3 linked regions of the Homo sapiens genome follow. The protein of the gene in region 2 interacts with the protein of the main gene of each other region in a biochemical or structural test. Each region holds a gene or a part of one and is shown on either strand. Other genes may lie near its edges. The genes, in order: FRS2, NTRK3 and PTPN1.

Region 1 (3,748 bases), on a different chromosome or scaffold from region 2:
TAGCATGTAACAGCCCCAATTTGAATCCAAATCTGTCTGGTGCCAAAGCCTGTGTGTTTCTACTGCATCATGTTGCTCCCCAATAAACTGGTAACCTGAGTTTAATGTTACAGAGAATAAGACTTTTCTAAGACAAAGATTTATGGATTGGGAGTAGGTGGGTGAAGAAGGCCTTTCAAATAAAGAGAATGATGTGAGCAGAAGTGTGGAGGTGGGAAAGTTCATTGTGTACTTGGAGAAAAGTTAGTGGACCAGATTACCTGGAATATACTGTTCATTTTTGGGAATTAGAGATGAGGTTTGAATTTTAAGTGGGGGCAGGATTGTGGAGCATGTTTAAGTGCTGCTTTTAGAAGTTTGACATTTGGGGAAAAAAAGTTCGACGTTTGGGAGGTAATGAGAAGTTACCAAGGTCTAATAGAGTAGTGTGCAGAATGATTTGATGTGGAAAGCTGACTTTCAATGTAGTATAAATACTGGGCAAGGGCAGTGGTAATGGAATTAGAGTGAAGGCTCTGCAGGACCTCAATGTCGTAGGTGGGTGGCGAGGAGGAGGGGTTTTTGGAGCAGGTTTGGAGGAGATGGAAGGTGAAGATTACACTTTTGTTTTTGAGACAGAGTCTAGCTTTGTTGCCAGGCTGGAGTGCGGTGGCGTGATCTTGGCTCACTGCAACCTCCGCCTCCTGGGTTCAAGTGATTGTCCTGCTTCATCTTCCCGAATAGCTGGGACTACAGGTGCTCACCACCACGCCCAGCTAACTTTTGTATTTTTAGTAGAGACGGGGTTTCACCATGTTGACCAGGATGGTCTCGATCTCTTGACCTCGTGATCCGCCTGCCTCAGCCTCCCAAAGTGCTGGGATTACAGGTGTGAGCCACTGCGCCCAGCTGAAGATTACACTTTTTAAGTGTCGGAGATGTTGACGGTGGTACTCTTACTAGAAATACGGGCAAGGAGGTACGTAATGAGATCAGTTTTGGATTTGTTGACTTTTTTGTATACTTGCCAAACGCTGGAAATGTCCAAAGGCTTTTGGAAATGTGGATTTGTGGTTAAGGGGAGAGGTCAGGACTAGGCATATATTAAACATGGGTTTAGTGAATAATACAAATAGGTGTACTGGTTGAATCTGTGTAAGAAGATGAAAGTGCCAAGGGAGAATGTAGAGGGGAAAGAAAAAAAAAACTTCTGTTTTAAATGGCATCTGTTTAAAACAGAAGGAAATATGCTAAGTGATTTATTTTATGCAGTGGGTAAAGAATTTGATAGTATGTCCACTGCTTCTTCACACTGTAGGTTCACACGGAGTAGAAAGAATCTGATCATTAAAAATCCAATTGGGAAATACAGTTTTCTTGCCCTGGGTAGCAAGAATACTATGCTATCTTTACCCTGTTTCAGGGAGGACAAACTACTTCAGACTCATTTCATCCAGAGTGTCAGATTTGGTTACTTAAAAGCTATGTTAGCTTGTTTCTTTTGGACATTTGTTTGGCAAGTGGTATGTGAGGAGTTGGAAGCAAATCTCTGATACAGTATTTCACTTATTTATGTGTATGACATCGATTTTGGTTTCAAAATCAAGAACCTCTGAATATTCAAAGATAATATTTACATCTCATTAAGGCTGTTAATATTGCTTTTTATAGAAAATGGCATTTGATTACATATTTTTCTTCCAACTCTATTTTATAAGTTCTTTTGATTAACATGATTAGTTTTGGCTTATAATGTTTGGATTATATTAGAGGGATAGAATAAGATACTTTTATCCATTATATGATAACACATATGAAAGTTACATATTTTATTTTGGAAACTGTTTAAGAACTGTAAATTTATAGAATTTTGTGTGGTTTTCTGTTTAGGTATTTAAATAGGGGGAACTTGAGTATTAATGTGTAAAAGATTATAATAGTTTGCAGAATGAGGCTTAGAGTTGTAACTTTTTGAGGGCAAGTTTATTATTTTTAGACTGAGTTACCATGGAAGTGTTTATTTCCTTCTTGAGAATTAATACATTCCTTTTGTTTTTCAGGAATATGTTTTCCACTATATCACAGGCACTTGGGAATGTCGAAAGAGTCCTGTGTCAGTGTTGTTGGAGGCAGGGGGTTTTGTGTGTGCTTTGTCTGGGCTGTTTGGCTTAGTTTCAGTAAGCCTGGTATTAATGAGGCAAAGGTCAGGAGTTCCATTTAGCTTCAGTCTAAATGATGGCCAGGGAGTACACCCCTCACTCCCTCCAGCTGTCTTGGAAATTCCTTGGTTGTCATTGGTCACAAAGGTGACTAGATGAGGGTGGATTGTTATACCACTGGAAGAATATTAGAGGAAACTTAGGATAATGGCTGGGACCTCTGACTCTAGAATTAGATAGACCCGTGTCAAAATCCTTGGTATTCAACCTTGGGAGAGTCCCTAAACTTCTCTAAGCTTACATTTCCTCATTATTGAATAGGTTAATATTTGGTTTGGGCATTACGTATCATCACTTTCCTTTTCTCAGTGGGAGCTAGCCACTTAAGCTTGTGGCTCCCGAAGTGCTGGACTGTGGAGTAGTGTCAGTTCATGACAGAGTTTTCCTTTGAGTGAAAGGAGAATGTAGTTGGCTTCTTTAAAGCTAAATCTATTGATATGTTTTTCTAAAATTATCTTTTGCCATTTTCGATGGGCGCTTAGTTCTTTTATGAAATAGTGGTGATGGGTAATCGGTAGTTTTTGTTTTTGTTTTTTAAATGTCCTTGGCAGAATAAAAGTTGGCAGCCCTATGCTGGTCACCCTCTCCTTCCTCGTGCCCCTTTTTAAAGATTATGGTTCTGTGAAATCCGAAAATCTTGGCTTAAACAGAATCTGAGGGATTGGAGGAGACTATTCATCCACATATTTATGCATATTAAAGAAGGTTTGGGGTACATTCTGCCCTTGTGTTAGCCTACAGAGGACGTATTGTGATTCTCGCCACCATTGAATTTAATTTTGTCAAGATTCACAGTCAATACTTATAACATATTTCAAGGAGCAGTTCAGACTGTTTTCAGTTGAGTTCACACAAGTAGCTCTAAATTACTTGTTTAAGACTGTGTTTCTCAACCAGAGCCTCTGGAGAAAACTGTTGAACTGTGGGCGCTGCCTGGGGGTGCTGCTTTAAGTTATTACTCTGTTGATTAGCCAACAAGATAAATAACTCGCCTTTGACATAGTGAAGCAGCAGAAATTGGCTTTCCATTTCACTTCTTCTGCAGGAAAGATAGAGCAAGAAAAGCCTTTTTATTAATACAGCAAGTAAACCTTGTACAAATATCAGTATTCAAAATGCTTTCTAGAGAAAGAATAGTGCAGCACTGTGCGTAATGGGTTATGTAAGTGGAGTCACAGAAGTCCTCCTGGGGACACAAACCAATTATGAACATAAGTGCTTATTGAAATTGCATCAGTTGTCTAGATGAGGAGCTTATTGACTCCCTGGTTCACTTGGGTGGGCAGGCGGCTGTGGGGGAGGGACGGGGGGGGGTGTGGGGGTGGGGAACTTAAGGTGCAAACCTAGCCTAGGTGACTGTTAAATTAAGGCTTAACATTTGTTTCTTTTGAGTGTTTTTGGTTGCGTAATTTTAAAAGTTGGGAATGCTATAGAAATATTTAAATTCTATTAGAATGTCCAAGGCAAAATGTTCAGGTTAAGTAGAAATAGCTTGGACCCTCTGTTAATTTTAAAGAAAACTGTGGGTTTGCTGCTTTAGATATTAAAAT
Region 2 (3,748 bases):
CAGGACTTGGATTCTGAGAGGCCATCAGGACTCCTTTCTCTAAATCCACCCAACACCAAAGAACAAGGGAAATGGATTCCCACAGGAGCTGTGCCAGTGGCAGGTGGGGGAGGGTCAGAGGTCATGGGTCAAATGACCTCTCCTTGCCCCATCTTTTCCCCAGTGCCCTGTTATATCTATGGCTGGTATTGACTGAGCTCGAGAAGAGCCCAGATTTCCACTCCAGAGCCAGGGGGCTGGAGAGAGGGCGGAGAGTCACGCTTACCCCGGAAAGTCAGCATCCCCATCCCTGTTTGACTTCTGAGGAAATGGAGGCTTGGGGTGGTAAGGTCACTTGCCCCAGACACACAATCCCAACAGGAACCCCCACTGTGTGGGGCTGCATATGGAGCAGGCTGGAAGAGGGATGTGCGGGCAGAGAGAAGCACCCGCAGCTGGGGTCAGTTCTTGTTTTAGTATGACTTGGGAAGAGGGCTTCAGTTGAAGCCCGTGCCTTGCTGGAGAGTTGTTCTTCAGATTTCTGATGTTATCAAGGAAATGGGACCAAGAGGTCCCCTAGCTCCCTACTGGCCTGAAGCTCTTGATGCTGGTGGCTGCCCCAGGGTATAGCTTGGGCACACTCTGGGTAGAAGATGCTGAGGCCTCCACAGTTTCACCCTCTTGTTCTTCGGGCTGTAATGTTTCGAGATCCTTCCTTCAAGTGCTGAACTGATTGTAACTGAGTTTCCAGAGGGACAAGAGGTTTCCCTGTGGTTCTGCTTCTCAGGGATGGTGTGTGGAGTGATTCCTGTGTGGCCATCCAAGGAAGCTGGCTGGGAACTGCCTCTGATGGGGGAGGCCATCTCCCCATTCAGCTGCCCTGTTTGTATCTGGAGGAAATCAGTTGCAAGGCATCAGAGCATAAGTGTGGGTCTCACCTCCACCCCTCACCAGAGCCACGCTCCTCCAAAGGGCCCTCCCTTTTGGCCCCTTTCTGCCCAGGAGGCCAATCCCTTTGCCTTTGCAGCTGTTGATACACAGGAACCTCATGGAGCCTGGAAGGGTCCATGCGCAGCCACACCCAACCAGGCTGTGACGTCACAAAGGCAGGAGGGTGGTGGCCATGGTGGACTGTCTGGGCCGCTTTGCTAGGCCAGGCCTACCTGGGGCTGGGTTGGAGTGGTATGGTCTTTAGCTGTTAGAAAGAAGATGAAGTGGGAGAGGATGGCATGGCTGGACCAGGTATGCTTGGGGCTGGCTACCTCGGCTTGCAAAGACCACGGGCTCTTAGCTGGGACTCTGAGTCGCCAGCTGGGTCTCACTCTGAGCCGCCACAGGGTCCCTGGCATTTGGCAGCTCTCTGGTCCCTTCATTTCCATGGCCCTCCCTGAAGGCCCTCTTCTGGCTGGCTGAAGGATCATTCGGGGCTTTGGCCGTCATGTTGGCTCCTGAGTCTCATTCTTTCTAAGGATCAAGGGGAGACCCAGCCTTGACAATGACCCAGCAGGGTATGAGCCAGGCCCCAAAGGCATCATGGGGCTCACTCTCGGTAGGCACAGTTTGGTGCTCAGAACCCCAGGATTAGGACTAGGTCTGAGAGAGGTGGGCAGAAATGTGAGGGGCTGTTGACATGAGATTTGGAAGCAGGAGTAGTTACAGCCCCAGAGAAAGGTACTTCCAGGATCAAACCTGGAGACCTTGGTCTCCTGAGGCCCTGGGGTTTTCCACCAAGGAAAGGCTATTGGTGGCTCCAGAGCCAAGACCCCCTGCCCCAGGAAGCCCAGCAGGTCAAGCTTCTGTCATACACCCTGGGGCCAAGGGCATCTGCTCTGCACCTCCATGGGACCTGAGGCCATGACAGCTTTGGGCAAAAACCAGCCCAACCTGGCCACTGCTTTGAAAGTCCTCATCTACTGGCCCCAGGAAGGCTAAGCCTGCAACCTGGAAGGTTCCTTAGGGTCCTAGAAGGCTCCTACTACCCTCCTGCCTGGCTGAACAGGAGGTGCTGCTGTGAGAAAGGGAGGGCCTGTCCTTGCCTTGCCAGTCCCTGCCAGCTGCTGCTTCTGTCCAACTCTGTAGAAGGACCAGGGCCCCAACTCAGCTGGCTCTTGGGTGGGTGTGGGTAGCCTGAGGCCCTCCTTTGGTATGGCCCTTGCCAATATCACGGCATTTCCACTGTGGCCTGGGTCCCCATCCCATGTGCTCCCATGGGTGGCTTGCACAGAAGTCATAGGCATGGTCTCCAGCCTCCCCTCGGGGCCTCCAGTTGGCTGGTGGCAGAGAAAGGGATGGATCATGTGAATCCCACCTTGGCTCTGCCCCTAACTCCCTGTGAGCTCCATCAGGGCACTCTAGACTTTCAGAGCCTGTAAATTCAACTATGAATTGAGGCCGCAGGGCAGAGTGTTTCTTCCAACTTGGACATATGTCATCTCAGGGCCCAGAGAACTTCCCCCAGGAGGCTCGGCCACGCCACTTTTAAGGGCATCTCCTGGGGATGGCAGTGATCCTTGTGATGGTGCCAGGAGGAGGTGCACTCCCTCACTGACCTTGGGACAGTGGTTATTCTCCTCTTCCTTCCCTTCCCACCTCTAGCAAACTCAGGCCACCCAGAATTTGACACCATTTGTGACACATGACACTATTTAGAGTCAACTGCCCAGACCAAATGGCATATTTAACAAGAATGTGCTGGGGCCTGCAGCCTCTCATTAGGGCCTGGACACCCAGCTTCGTGACTCCCCATCTGCACCCTGGGCTCAGGGCCAGGAAAAGATGTTCTTTTGCAAAGCTTTCAGCCCATTGCTGGAGCACAGCTCTCCACTGGGTGTGAGAAGAAAACACTGGAACTTCTATTGCAAATTATTTTTGCCTAGAAAAGAGGATATTTCATATTTAATGTATAGATAATAGATATATAAACATATAAAGTAATAAATATGAGTGTTTGGGGTTTATAAAATAAACTTTTTGATTGCTAAATCATGCATGATCAATACAGCTTGGTACCCACTGCTCTTGTGATTGGGAGGGTTGGCACTTGAGAAGGAGACAGGGTGGTGACAGAAGAGGTGGTCCTGAAGCCCCTGGCTCTCTCTTGGTGCTGGGCCAAGGAACGGTTGATTAATAGGGGGGTATGGTTAATGTGAGGAGGGAATAAGCTGGGTGGGGTGGAGGATCTCAGTTCCGGATCAGAGTTCCCAAGGCCCAAAAGCCCCCTCGCAGGGGCCAGGCCAGCTCTTATGAAACGATGGTCTAGTGCCTACTGGGATCCTACCTTCTTATCCTTGTGTAGCAAATTCTTCATCTCCACGAATGCCCCCATCAGTCATATCATTATTTTTAGTTTACAATTGTTGAGTTTATTTTTGTGACAGTTGCTTGGCATATAAAAGCAGAGCTTAACAGTCCCATTTTACAGATCAAGAAAACAAAATAAAGAACAAATCTAGTGTCCCAGGTGGTCATGTTGTCATAGCTCACAAATGGAAAAGTCCAGAGGCTCTCAGGAGTCTGTGGTTCTTCTGGGGCTTCTCTTACCAGCTTGTGGGTCCCCTTGGCTCTGTTCTTTCTTGGGCGTGGCCCTTTCAGCCAGACATTAGGACTACGCCTGAGAGAGGAAGACAGAAATGTGAGGGGCTATTGACATGAGATTTGGAAGCGGGAATACTTACGGCCCCAGAGAAAGATACTTCCAGGATCAAACCTGGGGACCTTGGTCTCCTGAGGCCCTGGGGTTTGGCTTGTTGGGAAGGAAGGTGCAGAGCAT
Region 3 (3,748 bases), on a different chromosome or scaffold from region 2:
ATCTGTTTGCTCCAACAGACTTTGTTTTTAAAAGGCTTTTCTCAGCCATAGCTGTCTGTTCTAGCACAAGGCTGGAATGAGTTCCTTGTGAAAGAGGTGAGCAGGTGTGAGGGAGGGTGTCAGTGGGCGGTAACCCACACCTTCAAGGATTAAAGGAAAACTTGCATTTGGCATGCTTGCTTCTTATTCAATTTTAAAATACATTTTAACGGCCGGGCACGGTGGCTAACACCTGTAATCCCAGCACTTTGAGGGGCTGAGGTGGGTGGTTCACGAGGCCAGGGGTTCAAGACCAGCCTGGCCAAGATGGTGAAACCCCATCTCTACTAAAAATACAAAAAAAAAAAAAATTAGCCGGGCGTGGTGGCGGGCACCTGTAATCCCAGCTACTCGGGAGGCTGAGGCAGAGAATTGCTTGAACCCAGGAGGCGGAGGTTGCATTGAGCCGAGATCATGCCACTGCATTCCAGCCTGGGCGGCAGAGCAAGACTCTGTCTCAAAATAATAATAATAATTTTTTAAAAATACATTTTAAGTCCTTTTCTTCCCCACCTGCCTCCACCCACCAAATAGAAGAGGTATTTCTTCTTCTTTAATGTCATTAAGGTTATATGGATACCATTTTCTAGAGAGGAAAGAATGATGGAATTGCCTAGTGTGAGTCTAGCAATTATCCTAACATACACAAATTTCTCCTTGTTCTGTGCCAAGATACTGTATTTAATATTTAATGAACATTAAATATTATTTACTAGTGTATTTAATGGCTGAGGCAGGGTTAAATATGTATTATTTTCATCCCAGCAGAGTTGGGGGAGGTCCTAGTAACTATGCCATGAGCTCTGTGAGGGTGAGGTGGTGTCTTTGCCCCCGCCTCCCTGGCACAGTGACTGGCACATGATTGGCATAGTGTGGACATTCGTCAAGTGAAGGAAGGCATCATGAGCAGATCTCTGGCCTGAATCCTTCTGCCATCAGCTGCTCGCCAGGTGGCCCTGGCACTGGGCCACAGGGAAACTCTCCAGGCTGGTATGGTTCCTGTCTGTGGCTGTCTTCCCGGGCCCATGTTAGGAGACTTTCACTTCCAGAGCCCTTTCCCTCTCAGGGCCTTGCTTACCAAGTGACTGGTTCCCATTTACTAGGAGCTCTTAGGTCATTGAAGATGTTGCGTACTCCCCCCAGTGAGGGCTGCCTTTTGATCACAGCCGCCAGAAGCCTCAAGGAAGGAGCAGAGCTGGAAACAGACGCCAGGCCATTGCTTCTGTTCCTCTGGGGCAGACCCAGCCACGGAAGAGACATTCTGGGACAAGGGCTGGGGTCCACCTTTCAAACGTGTCTGCAGCAGGCTCTCAGCATGGACTCTCTGCCTCCAAACATCCACCTCCTCATCGGAAAATGGATGGGAGTGCCTGCCTGGAGCAGCTGGTGGGAGAGCGCAGCGCCAGCACGTAGGACACACTCGGTTCATGGGCTGATGCCGTTCGCATTGACTGCCTCTTCAGCTGGGTGTTGAGCCACACCTTGGAGTCACCAGTCTTTGGAGACCAAGTCTGCTACTTTTTTCTCTAAAGTGACAATCCTCTGAAACCTCCAGATCATCTTGAAGCCCCCGTCTGAAAGTTGCCCAGAGCCAGTGCCTCACCTGCTGTTCCTTGTTCACTTTTTCACGGGAGGCCTTGCAGGGCTTTATGACAAGATTTTATGGGTGGCTGCCCAGCATCATTGTGACTCGTGAGACAGAGAGAAACCAGTTGTAACCATGTAGACAGTGGAAGTGATAGGGAGAAAAGAGGTGAGGGGACTCTTCAATCCGAAGGGAAATGAAGTCTAAGCAGGCGCACCCTGCAGGTTCAGTGTCAAGCCCAGGGCCTGGCCCCAGGGTGTGGTATTTGTTGACTGGGTGTGTGGACCCTGGGAGAAAGTCTGAGAATGAATGTTCCTCTTAGAGGTAGAGAGTGGAAGGTGACTCTGTGTGTACTTGGAATTAGTGATTTCTGTACAGATGATTCTTTTAGAATCATCATGAGTATTTTTCTCTTTCAGACCCAAGAAACTCGAGAGATCTTACATTTCCACTATACCACATGGCCTGACTTTGGAGTCCCTGAATCACCAGCCTCATTCTTGAACTTTCTTTTCAAAGTCCGAGAGTCAGGGTCACTCAGCCCGGAGCACGGGCCCGTTGTGGTGCACTGCAGTGCAGGCATCGGCAGGTCTGGAACCTTCTGTCTGGCTGATACCTGCCTCTTGCTGGTAAGGAGGCCCTCGCGGGTGCCCTGGGGAGCTCCTCTACCTGCTCTGCTGTGATGTTTTTTCCTAAGTAGAAACTGAAGCGCTCCTCTTCCAAAATACAGAGACTCACTGTGTTAGTCTGTTTTTGCGTTACTAATAAAGGCGTACCTGAGACTCGGTAATTTGTAAAGAAAAGAGGTTTAACTGGCTCCCGGTTCTGCAGGCTGTACAAGCATGGCACCAGCATCTGCTCGGCTCCTGGGGAGGCCTCAGGGAGCTTCCAGTCATGGTGGAAGGTGAAGGGGAGCAGGAGCAAGAGATGGGGGAGGTCCCAGACTCTTAACCAGCTCTCTTGTGAATGCATTGCCTCAGGGAGGGCACCAAGCCTTTCATGAGGGACCTGTCCCCCTGACCCAGACACCTCCCACCCAGCCCCACCTCCAACACTAGGGATCACATTTCAGCATGAGATTGGGAGGGGACAGACATCTAACGGTGTTATTAACGTTGCCCTTGAGAATTGGACCTGGCTGACTTATATCTCCTCTCTGGCTTTCAGATGGACAAGAGGAAAGACCCTTCTTCCGTTGATATCAAGAAAGTGCTGTTAGAAATGAGGAAGTTTCGGATGGGGCTGATCCAGACAGCCGACCAGCTGCGCTTCTCCTACCTGGCTGTGATCGAAGGTGCCAAATTCATCATGGGGGACTCTTCCGTGCAGGTCAGCATTGCCTTTGTTTGAATCCAGGTGTGACCATTTTAACTTTTTTGTCTTTGAAGGAGGCTGTCAGTTGTAAAAGTTCAAACACCGTCTGGTGTCAGGGGAAATAGCTACCCTTCATGTTTAAAATAGCTAGAAAGTTGTCAAAATGTTCACCATGTTGCACTTTGTGCCTTTGAAGTGCTCACATAGAGAGCATTGATAGGAAGACGAGACTTTATTTTCAAAAGATTTCATCTTCCAAGTACATGGCTGCAGCCCTGAGAGGCCGAGAGCCCCTCGCCAAGCCGTCACCTCTGCTCATGCAAAGGGATTTCCTGACAAACCAGCCGAAGTGAACACTAATAGGACTTCCTCTTGCTGCTCTTTCAAGGATCAGTGGAAGGAGCTTTCCCACGAGGACCTGGAGCCCCCACCCGAGCATATCCCCCCACCTCCCCGGCCACCCAAACGAATCCTGGAGCCACACAATGGGAAATGCAGGGAGTTCTTCCCAAATCACCAGTGGGTGAAGGAAGAGACCCAGGAGGATAAAGACTGCCCCATCAAGGAAGAAAAAGGAAGCCCCTTAAATGCCGCACCCTACGGCATCGAAAGGTAATATGATTGGGTCCCAGCTTGTTGGGGTGAGGGGAAATGACTTTCTGTTCTAGAAACACACGCTGGTACTGAAACCCTGTGGATGCAGCCTCCTGTTGGCAAGCAGCGCTTCCGCATCCTTGGGGAACAGGGCGCGTGGACCACAGCCACTCCACTCCTGGCTGCTGGAGGTCCGGTATTGGGCACAGGGTGGCC

The links.
Region 1: the proteins of NTRK3 (region 2) and FRS2 form a complex in vitro, tested with the Homo sapiens proteins (one study listed by BioGRID).
Region 3: the proteins of NTRK3 (region 2) and PTPN1 form a complex in vitro, tested with the Homo sapiens proteins (one study listed by BioGRID and IntAct).

Annotation. Positions count from the first base shown.
Region 1 is NC_000012.12:69,473,251-69,476,998, forward strand, and holds part of FRS2 (fibroblast growth factor receptor substrate 2), read left to right. Parts: exon of another isoform or gene 1-958; intron 959-3,748. UniProt on the Homo sapiens protein: Adapter protein that links activated FGR and NGF receptors to downstream signaling pathways.
Region 2 is NC_000015.10:88,249,996-88,253,743, reverse strand, and holds part of NTRK3 (NT-3 growth factor receptor isoform a precursor), read left to right. Parts: intron 1-265; exon of another isoform or gene 266-1,014; intron 1,015-1,129; exon of another isoform or gene 1,130-1,221; intron 1,222-3,748. UniProt on the Homo sapiens protein: Receptor tyrosine kinase involved in nervous system and probably heart development.
Region 3 is NC_000020.11:50,576,377-50,580,124, forward strand, and holds part of PTPN1 (tyrosine-protein phosphatase non-receptor type 1), read left to right. Parts: intron 1-2,043; coding exon 2,044-2,253; intron 2,254-2,791; coding exon 2,792-2,953; intron 2,954-3,326; coding exon 3,327-3,550; intron 3,551-3,748. UniProt on the Homo sapiens protein: Tyrosine-protein phosphatase which acts as a regulator of endoplasmic reticulum unfolded protein response. Mediates dephosphorylation of EIF2AK3/PERK; inactivating the protein kinase activity of EIF2AK3/PERK.